Linked DNA regions of Homo sapiens. The protein of the gene in region 1 purifies or fractionates together with the protein of each later gene. This does not show direct contact. Each region holds a gene or a part of one and is shown in the gene's direction. Other genes may lie near its edges.

Region 1 (4,337 bases):
AGCTCACTGCAGCCTCTGTCTCTCGGGTTCAAGCGATTCTCCTGCCTAAGCCTCCCGAGTAGCTGGGATTTCAGAGGCACACCACCACGCCCGGCTAATTTTTGTATATACATATTTTTAGTAGAGACAGGGTTTTACCATGTTGGCCAGGCTGGTCTCAAACTCCTGACCTCAAGTGATCCGCCTGCCTTGGCCTCACAAAGTGCTGGGATTACAGGCATGAGCCACTGCGCCCAGCCTCTGGTATTCTTTTGAAACTTTGACCTCTACCACCTTGTTGCCAGACTGGTTTAGGTATCATCTGATTAGGTGAAGATTACAGAGGTCTTCCCCGTGCCTGTGGCACCACTGGCACAAATGGTCACTAGCTGGAACTGATTTAGGACGGCACTGGCAGGGAAAACACATGCCAACCACCATCTGCCCCTTCATATCCTGAATGGGCAGGTGAGACTCTCTTTCACTTGGCCAGCCAACATACATCATCAACGTACATGTGCCCATTCATTTCAGGAACAGCTTTGTCTCTTTGAGGAAGAGAAGCTGAAAAAGACAAGCCTTTTGTTTCTCCCTCACTCCAGCATCATCTTGGCACTGGTAATATATCCAAGATATATTGGTGTTAGCCAGGCTCACATTTACCCCTTTGATTGGGTTAATTTTTTGAAGTTCCAACTTCTGTTGTTTCAAGTGTTCAACTTCTGTGCAGAGCTTATGAATATGATTTTTCGCCACTGAGTTCATTTCTTCCACAATGTAGGTATCCAAATTTTTTGTAACTTACAAAGTCAAATCCTTTGGATTTCCCACTAGGCTGTGTCATCACATAGACACTTTAGCATTGTACCAAATAAATGAAAAAATTTTTTCAGGTTGTCATCATTCATATCTTCCCCAGAGCTTTAACTTTGTGCTAGGTGCCTTGTTAAGTACAGGGATACAACACAGTTCAAGATTAAATGTCCCTGCCCTCATAAAGCCGCCCGGCAGGAAAAACAACTAATTAAGCTATTGTCAAGTTATTTACAATGAAGACAAAAGCACAATATGCTTTTGGATTTGTTTGATTTTATTACTCTTTAAGTTTGACATATGAAAATACCATACTTAAAACAGTTCATGTAGGGTACCTGAAACAAAGGCACTAATACAGTACTAGAAAGGTGGTGACGGATTTAAGAACAATTGTGCCAATTTCTAATCTGTTTTATAGTAAAGTTATAGAATTGGAGGAAACTGCTCCTGTACAACTTTGGAGGAGGGTAGGAGGAGCAGGGCGTGAGAATGCCTTTCCAGAAGCTTAGGAGTACGCCCAGTCGCTGCGTGGCTTCCCGCATACTCAGCCCTGCGCCCGCGTTGGCGTGGCCTGGGCGCCCCCAACGTGACTCCGCCCAGGGCGCTCCGTTCTGCCAGCTGGAAACTACAGTTCCCAGAAGGCCACGCGAGCCCGGGAGGGACGCGGCGGCGGGGGCTGCAGGAAAGGCGCGAGCAGAGGCGGCGGCGGGTGTACTGTAGGTGGTCGGTCCGGCAGCAGCCCGGCCCCCGGACGCAGGACGTGGCCCCAGGCAGCCCTCGCAGCTCAGTGCTCTAGCCGGGGCAAGCCCGCGTCTCCGCCTGCTGGACGGGCCCAGGCGAGATGTAGGGCTCTGGGCGCGGAGGCCGCCGGTGGGGCGGCTGATCGCGGAGGATCGCGGAGGGCGCGCCGAGGATGGAGAGAGCGATGGAGCAACTCAACCGCCTGACGCGCTCGCTGCGCCGCGCGCGCACCGTGGAGTTGCCCGAGGGTGAGCCGGGTCGCGGGGCCAGGCTGGCCGCGGGGCTGGGGGCGGCCAGTGGGGCAGGAGCTCCGGCCGCGTCAAGGTCGGGTGGAAAAACTAACTGAAAGCTGAGAAAACGCCCACTTTTACTTTCCAGAGCTGAGAGGCGGCCCCGGGCCCCGAACTCCCCTGGCCCGACGCTCCCACCCCGGCAGGTGGGAGTTTTCGGGAGGAAACTGGGTTGGTGGGGGTTCCGCTGCTGGGAGGAGCGAGACAAAGGTCTCGCAACGTCTGTCGATTAGGGGTCTTGGCAAAGGGGCAGGAATACCAGCCGGAGGCCCGAGACCCGGAGTCAGAAAACATCATAATTGCGGGTCATTTAACAGTAGCTGGGGATAGAGATGATCCAAAGATACTGTTTACTTTAAGCTGCATCGGGGGGCCAGGCGGGCTTTTATTTTTGTTATTTTTTAAAATGTGGGGCACTGCCTTGTTTTGATAACAGGCAAACAAAGGGTTGTCAAACATCAAACAGGTACTCTTAAAGTACTGTATGGGTAAACACAATATATTTTTCTTTAATATGCATGCCTGCCTTCATTCTTCATTTATTCATCAGACTAGTATTGAGTGGGCTAGCTGGTAACTAGGACGCATCTGCAAAGAGGAATAAGGCATGGTCCCTGAGGATCAGGACTTTTAGTTCAGCGTGCCAGGGTTCCCTCAGGACAGGTAAAACTCTGCTAATAACAAGGAGAGAAAATAAGCAGTTTTGTTTGCAGCGTCAGGAATTCAGACATTTTAGTGGTGATGGGAGACAGCAGTGCTGCTTCTAAGAAGCTTTTGGCTCTTTATGCCCAAGTGAGAGAAGGGTTGGGAGGAGGTTGTAGCTGGTGAATAGCTTTTTTCTTAATTGTAGTAGTTTATCTTACTTTTTCAAAACTCTCTTTGAATTGCTGCTGGGTGGTTTGTAGGATAGGGAAGGAGACCTTGGCAGACGGTCATGAAAGAAATGTGGGATTGGGTACTTTGGCGATAATTTTCTTTCCTTTCTTTTATAGAGATGAGGTCTCACTATGTTCCCCAGGCTGGTCTTGAACTCCTGGGCTCAAGTGATCCGCACCCTGCTCCCCCCAAAGTGTTGGGATTACAGATGTGAGCCACCGCGCCTGGCCTGGGGATAATCTTCTTGAAAAAATGGTCTCTAGTCTCTATTTAGAATTCAGATTTTGGTAACTAGATTCTAGCTTCAACTTTTTCTATATTTTCTTTCCAACTTCCACCTTTGAATCCATTTCTTAAGTGCTACTCTTACTTATTTTTCGTAGTCGAATTATTGGTATAGCTTTATGAAGACTACATGTATAATTTATATTGTCTAGTTTGAATCCCGATATTTTTTACATAAATGTGATTTAGAAGACTTTGATAATGTTACTTGGTTTTAAAAGTAATATAGTTTCATTGTAGAAAATTTGGAAAATAAAGAAAAATAGAAAAAAATATGTCATTTCACCATCCAGTTATAAACAGTGTTACCATTGTTATTTCTTTTTCCCTCCCTAACAAGTTAAAATCATGTTGCATATAGTCTTTTATTTTGTGTTTAGAAAACATCCTTTTTTTTTTTTTTTTTTGAGACGGAGTCTCACTCTGTCGCCCAGGCTGGAGTGCAGTGGCGCCATCTCGACTCACTGCAAGCTCTGCCTCCGGGGTTCACGCTATTCTCCTGCCTCAGCCTTCCCAGTAGTTGGGACTACAGGCCCCTGCCACCAGGCCCGGCTAATTTTTTGTATTTTTAGTAGAGACGGGGTTTCACCGTGTTAGCTAGGATGGTCTCGATCGCCTGACCTCGTGATCTGCCCGCCTCGGCCTCCCAAAGTGCTGGGGGATTACAGGCGTGAGCCACCGTGCCCCGCCCCAAATGTTTTTTTTTTTTTGTATTCTTCAATAGGCTTAATGACTTCAGAATTTCATAGGATGCATGTAACAAATGTTGAATCTAAATACTGTTTTTAAACTGATTTTATGAGAAACAGCTTTGTATTTAAGACATAGTCTGCCTCTAAATACTTCCTTAGGGTTAATTCTTACAAGAAGAATATCTACAATACATTTCTAAGGCTCAACATATCAGTTTCTCAACTTACTCCTTGGAAAGTTCCACCAGCAGTCCGAGAGTGCCCAGAAACTAGAGTATTATTAGTAAAAGTAAAACTTTTCCACATAGGCAAAAATGGCATCGTTTGCATTTGCTTTTCTTTGATTATAATGTTCATTTTGTTCCTTGAATTTAATTTATCTTTGTCTCTAAGCTCTGATGAGTCTTTGAATTCTCTGAGCTTGGCTCTTTAAAGTATATCATACATATAGGAATATATATATATATATGTAAATATATATGTAAATATATATGTAAATAAATATATATATGTAAATATATATATAACATTCCTACTGATACAAATCCACATTTGTGCTTACATTTTAAGAGCTGAATGGAAACTCTGAGATCTCTCTAAATTTAGAAAATAATCAGATTTTTTTTGCTTTGTTAGAATTCAGTAATCAATAAGCATC
Region 2 (4,359 bases), on another chromosome or scaffold:
CTGGAGTATCTATTCCTAGCTCTTCCTATCCCTGGAGTGAAAGAGAGGGCTTGTCTGCACCCCCATTGCCATCTCCCATTCCCTGAGGTAACCACAGCATGCCTCTTCTTTCCCCCATCTCCTTCACCTGACTTTGGCTACCAAAAGCAGCCTTTCCCAGGAGGGAGGACACCTGGCCCCCAGGGGGGAGCAAGGACAAAGCCAAGTAATTCCAGTATGGAAAATGTGACGTGACCCAGGAGTCTGTGTCCCAGGTCCTGGTCACCCTGCGAGCATTGCTGGGGAAGGTACTTTGGGTATGTCTGTCCAGCCTATCAGCCTAGCTCAGACTCTCCCCTTCTCCTCTTTCTCCCTCCCAACTCCAGTCCCCATGGGAGTGTTTGGGATCCGTGCACAGAGCTTGGACTGCAGACCCATTCTTTTCTCTCCCTCTGTCCTCAGTAGAATGCAGAGTGAAACCACTGGGTTCTCTCACTCTAGGGTTGAGAGTCTGTCTATGTTGAAGCAGATAATGCCCCCATCAGACACAGACACTCACTCTCGGCACTGGCATGCGCACGCGCTTGCACAGACACACACACACACACACGCACACACACACACACCCGGAGTCAACAGCATTCATGGCACATCTACCAGGCAGGCAGGCAGGCAGGCCGGTGCTGGCTAGGGCAGACACACACCCTCTGCCTGGGCTTTCTCTCTCACACCCAGCCCAAGGCTCCTCCCACTCCCAGCCACAGTTCCTCCTGCCCTCCTCTCCAGCCTCTCCCCTTCCAAATCCAGGCCTAAAGGTGGGGGACAACTGGCAGCCAGGGACCCAGGCGCCCTAACTCCTGGAGCTTACTCCAGGCAAGATGACAGGGAAGATGTCTGTGAGCCCTGGCCTCAGCACCCCCAGCAACAGCCACTAGTCAACCAGTTTGCTCCTGGGACCAAAGGACTGAGGTGGGCTAGGGGAAGGGAGAGGCTACTTGGATCTGCAGGTGAAGGCTGAGCAAAGAGTAAGGGCAGGAGCATCTATTCTAGATCTGGCATACTCCTGCCCGGCCAATCCAGCACTGGGAGGGAGTGGGTACCGCCCCATTGCCTACCCTGGGGAGGCGCCAGAGACTGGCCTCGCAAGAGTCACAGCCTGGCCACAGACAACTCAACTAGTCCCCCCAAAAGGCAGAAAGGAGAAAAGTGCCAGAGAGAAAAGGTTGGCATCACGGGGCCAGGACACTGACCTCCTCTGCCAGCCGTGCCCGGCCTCCCAGAGGATGGAGTCACGGAAGCCTAGCAAATGGGAAGGGCAGAGACCCAGGCGTCCCGGGCCGCCCCGCCCAGTCCCCCTCCCGCCCACCCATCCCTCCGCCCCCCAGCCCCAGGGCACAGAGGAGGGAGCCGGGCAGGGGCAGGCAGGGGAGGGAGGAGCGAGGGCGGGAGGGGGAGGAGGGAGTTGGGCAGGGAGGGAGGTTGGGGGGGGGGTGGGGAGGGAGAAAAAGAAAGAAAATATTTTCCGTGTCCCCGCCTGCAGAGTCAGTGTGCGGTTTGGGAGAAAATGTGTCGGATATTTTGGGGCGGTCACGTGGGCGGGCGGGCTCCGAGAGGCCCCGGGACAGTCCCAGCCTAGAGCCGTGCCCCCCCAGGAGCCCCCCAGTACGGCGAGCCCCGGACATTGCGACGCTCCATCCAAGAGACTGCCCGACGCCGGGACCTCGGGGCTCCGCCGCCTCCCTTCCCCCTCCCACTCCAGGTGAGTCAGGCGGGGAAGCAGGCTCGCCCGCCCCGTCGCCTGGGTCCTCCGGCGAGGCGGCTGGGGGAGGGGGCGCGGAGGAGCTGCACGGGCGAATGCCCTCCCGAGGCTGGCCAGGCTGGCCGCCGGGCTTGAGGGGGGCTTCTTGCCCCGACCCAGGCCAGTCCTGCTGTGGGAAGGGAATGGGGAAGATTTTAACAGGCTGAGGATGGGCTGGGTCATCTGCCCTTCATTTTGGTGCATAGCAGAGGACAGCATTTGGGGAAGTCTTCAGCCAGGGGGCATTCCTCCTTATATTTTTGTGCTGGGAATGTGAGAGAAGACAGGGTTTCCTCTCGCGGGGAAAGACTACCACCCCCTTACCCCCGGGCTCTGAGGGGTAGATTTGATGTTCCATGCTGGTCCAAGTTCCTCCCTCCCCAGTGGAATGGGACAGCTTGGACATCAGAAGGCAAGGAAAACGTCCAGAGGCAAGTGAGCCTGGCCCTCCGCGTCCAGGAGTTCCGAAGGACTGGTGCATAGGATAGGGATCTGTGAACTTTCCTTGAAGCGCTGGATTCCCTCCCACACGTTCCCAGCCCAGGTGCGAGCCTTGGCTCCCTCCAGCCAAGGTGGGGGGCACCTCTGGAGTATTCTTGAGGGAAGCCCAAATGGAACAAAGAAAGAGCAGGAAGACCGGGACAGGGACCCAGGAGTGCTGGTCCCAGAGTTCCACTGACGCTGCCTCTCTGTCTTTAGCAGCTACGGCCCAGTTCCCTCAACCTGACCCAGTATGTAGAAGCCAGTCTCTGCAGGCGGCCAGCGGGTAAGAAGATGCTTGGTTGTTAGTGGTGGTGGGGGCAGGGGAGCCTGAGTAGGAGGTCTTCAGGGCAAGAAACTGAGATGACTGTCCCGCTTTAGGGCTCTGGTCCTGGGCAGCTGGAATCCCAATCCTCAAGTCTGAGGCTTCTGCCCTTAGGGTCAGATGCTGAGTTGGGGTCAAGGACCATAGCCAGCATCTCATATCCTTGAGGCAAGTAGAGAGAAGACAGGGGAGTGGGGGTAGTGTGTGCAGGGAGCCTGGAGCTTGGGTATCCCATATAGACAGACATACACACACACACACACACACACACACACACACACACACACACACACGCACTGTGGCCTACAGCCTAGTAGGCAGCATGGGGCACGCCCCCCCACACCCCGGCACACCCCCACCCCTGGCTCAGAAAGCCACCTAACTGGCACCTCCAGTTCCCCCCTCTGCCCCACCCTGTCCATGCCCTCTGATGCCCACACACATTCCACTGGCATTGCCTGCCTGCCTCCTGGGCACTGCCCCTCCCTGGGGCTAGTAGGGTGGAGGGAGGGCACCTGGGGATGAGAGGTGGAGACTCAAGGGTCTGGACTCCCCCAGGGATGGCACAATGCCAAGGAAGCCTGGCCCACTGCTGCCTCCTGGGGAGCAGGCTGGGGGCCCAGGCTAGAGCAGAGGATGCCTGGGTTCTCTGCCCAGGCTGGAGATGGGGTCATGGAAAAAGGTGGTCGTGTTTATACAGAGGGGAGGGGGGCAGCGGGTGGAGAGTGGCCGACAAGAGCAGCTTTGTTCCAGGCTCTGGAGCGGGCAGGGCGACAGGGAAACACACCCCCCTCCATCCGGCAGCCCCCTTCATCCATGCCCTCCCCTCAACTCCACCTCAGCTCTAAGAGAAGCAGCTTTGTAAGAGCCCCTCTCCCCTAGTCTGTCATCCCCGCTGCCCCACCATTTGAGATGGCATCTTAGTAGAGGAAGAATGTTCTCTACTTTCCATGAGTCCCCCAAAGAACCAAGGCACCTGGGGCCTCAGTTTAGGACTTCCTTTTACTCTGCACTGCCTTCAATTCCTTAGTCCATTCTCCTACCCTGGGTTTAAGACCCTCCCCTTCTCTTCCCAGCCACGACAGAACCAAGGCTCAGAAATGGGAGGAATCTCTACCCCCTTCCTCTCTTCACTCAACTCCCAAGTCCCTTCTCTGAGGCAAAATAAGAGGAAGGCCAAGGACAACTCTCATTGGCTCACATGCAGCATCATTCCTTGGTGAGGATCAGGAGCTGAGCATCCCTCTGTGGGGACCCCCACTGCCCTACCTGCCTGTGTTTCCCATTGGTAGGTGAGAAGCAAAGACAAGGAGGGCTAAGGCAGAGAGCCCTGTTCCCAGTCTAAGCCAAGTCTGGGGAACATGGGGATGGGGGAGTCCTCTAGTAGCTTCTCACCCTTGTCATTGGAGGGGTTAATCCACCTGGAATGTGGCCTGGCCAGTTGAGCTGTGGCCCAGGGGCCTCAGGGGCCCCCAAACTCCTGGCTCCATCAGGGCTTAACTAGGGATGAGAACTTCGGAGGGGAATAGGAGAAGGAAAAGGAGAGGGACCCTGGAGGCTTGGAGCTCAGACTTTTAGGGCCTGCGAAGACACTGGGCTAAAGAGTTTGAGGGTGCTGGGTGTATGGGTGGTGCCATGGTGAGGGGCAGGGGATGCTTCATTCATAAGGGCTGAGTGAAATGTGATGGCGTTGGGGTCTGGGTTCTTGTAACCTCCATGACAGTTTACCCTCAAGGGCTTGAAGGCCAAGGTAGAGGAGAGAAAGAAAAACAAGCAA
Region 3 (3,614 bases), on another chromosome or scaffold:
GTATTAGGAGGTGGGGTCTTTGGGCGGGGGCGATTAGGTTTAGGTGAGGTTACAGGGTGGAGCCCCAAGATGGAATCAGTGCCCTTATGAGGAGATGAAGCCACCAGAGCTCCCTTTCTCTTTCTTGTGAGGATATAGCAGGAAGGCAGCTGTGACCTAAGATGAGAGCCCTCACCAAGAACCCAGCCATGCCAGCTCCCTGACCTCAGACTTCCAGCCTCTAGACCTAGGAGAAGCAAATGTTGTTGTTTAAGGGGCCAGGTCTCTGTTACAGTAGCCTGAACTAAGACAGGAGGGCAGGGATCTTCCCAAGGTCACAGATGGGGGTGGTGCAAGATCGGGGTGGAGTGGGGTATACGGCCAGAGTGGTACTGGGCTACCTCCAGGCCTAACAGGATGTAAAAGAGGATATGAAGCATAAACAGGAGCCCTTAGGGATAGCAGAGATGAGAGAGTTGTGGGCCACAGTGAGCTAGACCACCAGAGAGTAACAGAGACAATGTGGGCGAATCAATAATGATGTTAACAATGAGCTATTAGAATAATGAATGAAAATTACTGGGCCTTTTAATGCTTTCCTGACAAGAACTTAAAATGTAACACTCAGTAGAATTTCCCCTAAACCTCATAACACTTCCAAGATATTAGCAGAGACTGGAGTTACCACCACAGTGTCTGAGTGGTCTGTGAGGTGACTCACAGCAAATCAAGTCCACAGCAAGCAATGCTGTGTCATTCTGACAGCCCTGCATCACGCAGCCACCCAGCAGGGCCTGGAGCCTTCCCAGGCCTCAGGCTCTGACCTTGACCTTCTGCTTGTTTCTTAATCCTTCTTTTGTCTAGTTGCCAGATGATGACAGTTTGTGATACTCAGCCCCAACATATGGAGTGAGAGGTATGCTTTGAGATCCTCCGGGAAAGTGTCTTATTTCTGCACAGCCACACACTTAGTGATCAGGGTGCAGTCTCCACAAGATTTAAATCCCCTTCCTCAATTTAGAAATCCCCTTCCTGCCTCCAGCACCTCTCTTCCCACATCTCAGCTTACACTGAATCCTGCAGCACTCTTCCAGCCCCATGGATCCAAGCATTAGCCATTAGCCCCTTGGTAGAGTCAGTAGAACAGAAACCAATTTTTGTGACCTTGGTGAAGTTATTTAACTTCTCTAAGCCTCTGTTTACCTATGTACAAAATAGAAATGCAAATCAACAAGGCATTAAATAAGGTAATTACTTAAATGGGATTAAATACATTAACAGCTGTAATACCTAGCACGTAGTAGGTACTTAGCCAATGATGTTGATGACAAGGCCAAAGCTGGGTTAACGTGGGCAATTTCAGCCCTGTGGTGGGAATCAGGAAACTTTCAACCACTCCTTCCTGGGCCATGGGGGTGAGGAGTCTGGGTTGGGGTGCAATAGGCCAGGGAGGAAAATGTCCCGATAGTTAAAGGGCAAAGACCTCCAATCATACCAGACAAAGTTCGAAGGAATACCCATTTGGCCCTAGGCAAGAGCTTGTTTCCAAGAATTTGTAGCAAAGGCAATTAATCACAAGATCCTGAAAGTACGCAAGTTCAAAGAGCATATTTTGAATGAGAATATTAACTGGCAGAGCTGTTTAGAAGAATCTTCTTATCTAAGTCATTGATATATGGATAGAGTGGGACAGAGTAACCAGGCGGATGGACAGACAGACAGACCCAGGCTGAGGTTATTCTCAGACCCTAGAAAGGAAACCCAGGCTGTCTCAAGGGTCACCAGCCCTGATTGAGTACCGCCTGTTCAGAGCCACGTGTCTCGTGTTGTGTGTGGTCTCTCAACAAGACAAGGTAATGCTTCCAACTGCACGCCTGCCAGGGCTGGCACTTTCACAGGAAGATGCGGTCAGCTGCGGGACACGCAGCCGAGGCTCTCCAGGAAGGGTTGATTCAGAATCATGAGGTGAGAGCCCTCATAATACAGGCAGATGGGGATGGAAGGCCTCACCTGTCCTGCCCTTGCTCACCTTCCAGGGGAATTTCCCATCCTAGCCTTTGCTCGGTGGGGACCATTTAGTGGGCAGCCCACAGCCGGGCTTCCTTCACGAGGTTGGGTCCAGAAGATTCTGAGGCCACACTTTGAGTTTCATGTTTTCCCACAGGAGCCAAGTAGCCAAAAATGTCTCTATTAAGACAGGCAGCCTCTTCATAACCACTGCAGATGGGTTTTTTATGTTTCTTTCTTCACTCAAGAGTTGGTAGCATCCTAGGGCTGTGTTCAGGCAAGTGAGGGAGCCCCGGAGCAGGAGTGACCCCTTCACCTGGCTCTGCCCCCATGTTTCCTTCTCGTTCAATCTCCTTTATGCCTTTTCTTCCACTCTCTCTCACCTGCCTCTTCTCCTCTGCACGTAATTAGGATCAAGTCTCTCTCAACTTAAAATAAAAATCGTAAAAACAAACCTTGAGGTGGTCAGACTTCGGTTTCTCTGCCTCTTCTCTCCCTCCACCCCTCTTCCCTCCCTCCCATCCTTCTCTTCTTCCTTCCGCAAATATCTGTTGATGACCTACTGTGTGCCGCGCACTATTCTAGGCTCTGAGGAGGCAGCAGAGGGAACCAAGCTAAAACCCCAGCCCTCATGGAGCCGACCTTCTCCTGGTGGGGGGACACAGACAGTAAGCAAGCAGATACGTGGATTAGACAGCGTCTTACATGCAACAGAGGAGAACAGAAGCAGAATCAGGGATGGAGCACAACAAAGGAGGGCTGGGGCTTGTTTCTGTAGCTCAGACACAGGTGGCATTTGAAGAAACCTGAATGAAGAAACAATTTCCCAGTGTTTCCCAGAAAGAGCCAGGCCCAAGAAAAGACACTGATGGGAGGGGTGTGTGAGTCGTGGGGAGCCTAGAGAGAGTGGAGTTCAAAGGCCCTGGGGCAGAGGAAGCCCCGGCAGGTTGGAGGAAGTGAGTGTGCCTGGAAGGGAGTGAGCCAGCGGGGGCGAGACCTTAGATCCTGGAGTGGGGCCTGTGATCGTGCACAGATTCTCCTTCTTGGTATCCTATAGAGTCACTGGGTTTTGAGCAGAGGTGTACCACGGTCTGACTTTTGGTTTAAACGTTTGCTCTGTCTTGTCATGTAGCACTGCGTCAATATTGGTTGAAGTCATGATTCTCACATGTATTTACTGAGCACTTACCTCGTGGATGTGAGATGGCAGAGTGGAGGGTCCCTGCCCTGTTGGACTCTACAGTCAACTCCAACCCCGCCTGGCCTGCCCCTACTTTTGCCACAGTATTTATCTCCTCCCCTCACCCTCCGCCCCCACCCCACTGCACGCAATCCTGGCTCCACATAGATCCTGCTTTCCTTCAGCTTGCCCCAGCTGTTGAATGTGGGCTCTGAAACTAGCTTGCCTGGGTTCAAAATCTGGCTCTGCTGCTTACTAGCTGTGTGACCTTGGGAAAGTTACTTCCCTCTCTGAGCCTCAGTTGCCTCGTATTTACAATGAAGATGGCAATAGAAGCTTCCTTTCAGGCTCTAGAAAGCATGAAATGAAGTAGCACGTAGAGCTTGGAACAGTGTGTGGCACCCTACAGGCCTCAGTTATGTTCGGTATTATTGTTAAGTCGCACTAT

The links.
Region 2: the proteins of HACE1 (region 1) and RARG purify together in Homo sapiens (affinity purification with western blotting; one study listed by BioGRID). This does not show direct contact.
Region 3: the proteins of HACE1 (region 1) and RARB purify together in Homo sapiens (affinity purification with western blotting, with the first as the bait; one study listed by BioGRID). This does not show direct contact.

Annotation. Positions count from the first base shown.
Region 1 is NC_000006.12:104,857,014-104,861,350, reverse strand, and holds the start of HACE1 (E3 ubiquitin-protein ligase HACE1), read left to right. Parts: upstream 1-1,431; 5' UTR 1,432-1,708; coding exon 1,709-1,784; intron 1,785-1,804; exon of another isoform or gene 1,805-1,972; intron 1,973-4,337. UniProt on the Homo sapiens protein: E3 ubiquitin-protein ligase involved in Golgi membrane fusion and regulation of small GTPases. Acts as a regulator of Golgi membrane dynamics during the cell cycle: recruited to Golgi membrane by Rab proteins and regulates postmitotic Golgi membrane fusion.
Region 2 is NC_000012.12:53,229,353-53,233,711, reverse strand, and holds the start of RARG (retinoic acid receptor gamma), read left to right. Parts: upstream 1-1,502; 5' UTR 1,503-1,738; intron 1,739-2,476; 5' UTR 2,477-2,543; intron 2,544-4,359.
Region 3 is NC_000003.12:25,581,660-25,585,273, forward strand, and holds part of RARB (retinoic acid receptor beta), read left to right. Parts: intron 1-3,614. UniProt on the Homo sapiens protein: Receptor for retinoic acid. Retinoic acid receptors bind as heterodimers to their target response elements in response to their ligands, all-trans or 9-cis retinoic acid, and regulate gene expression in various biological processes.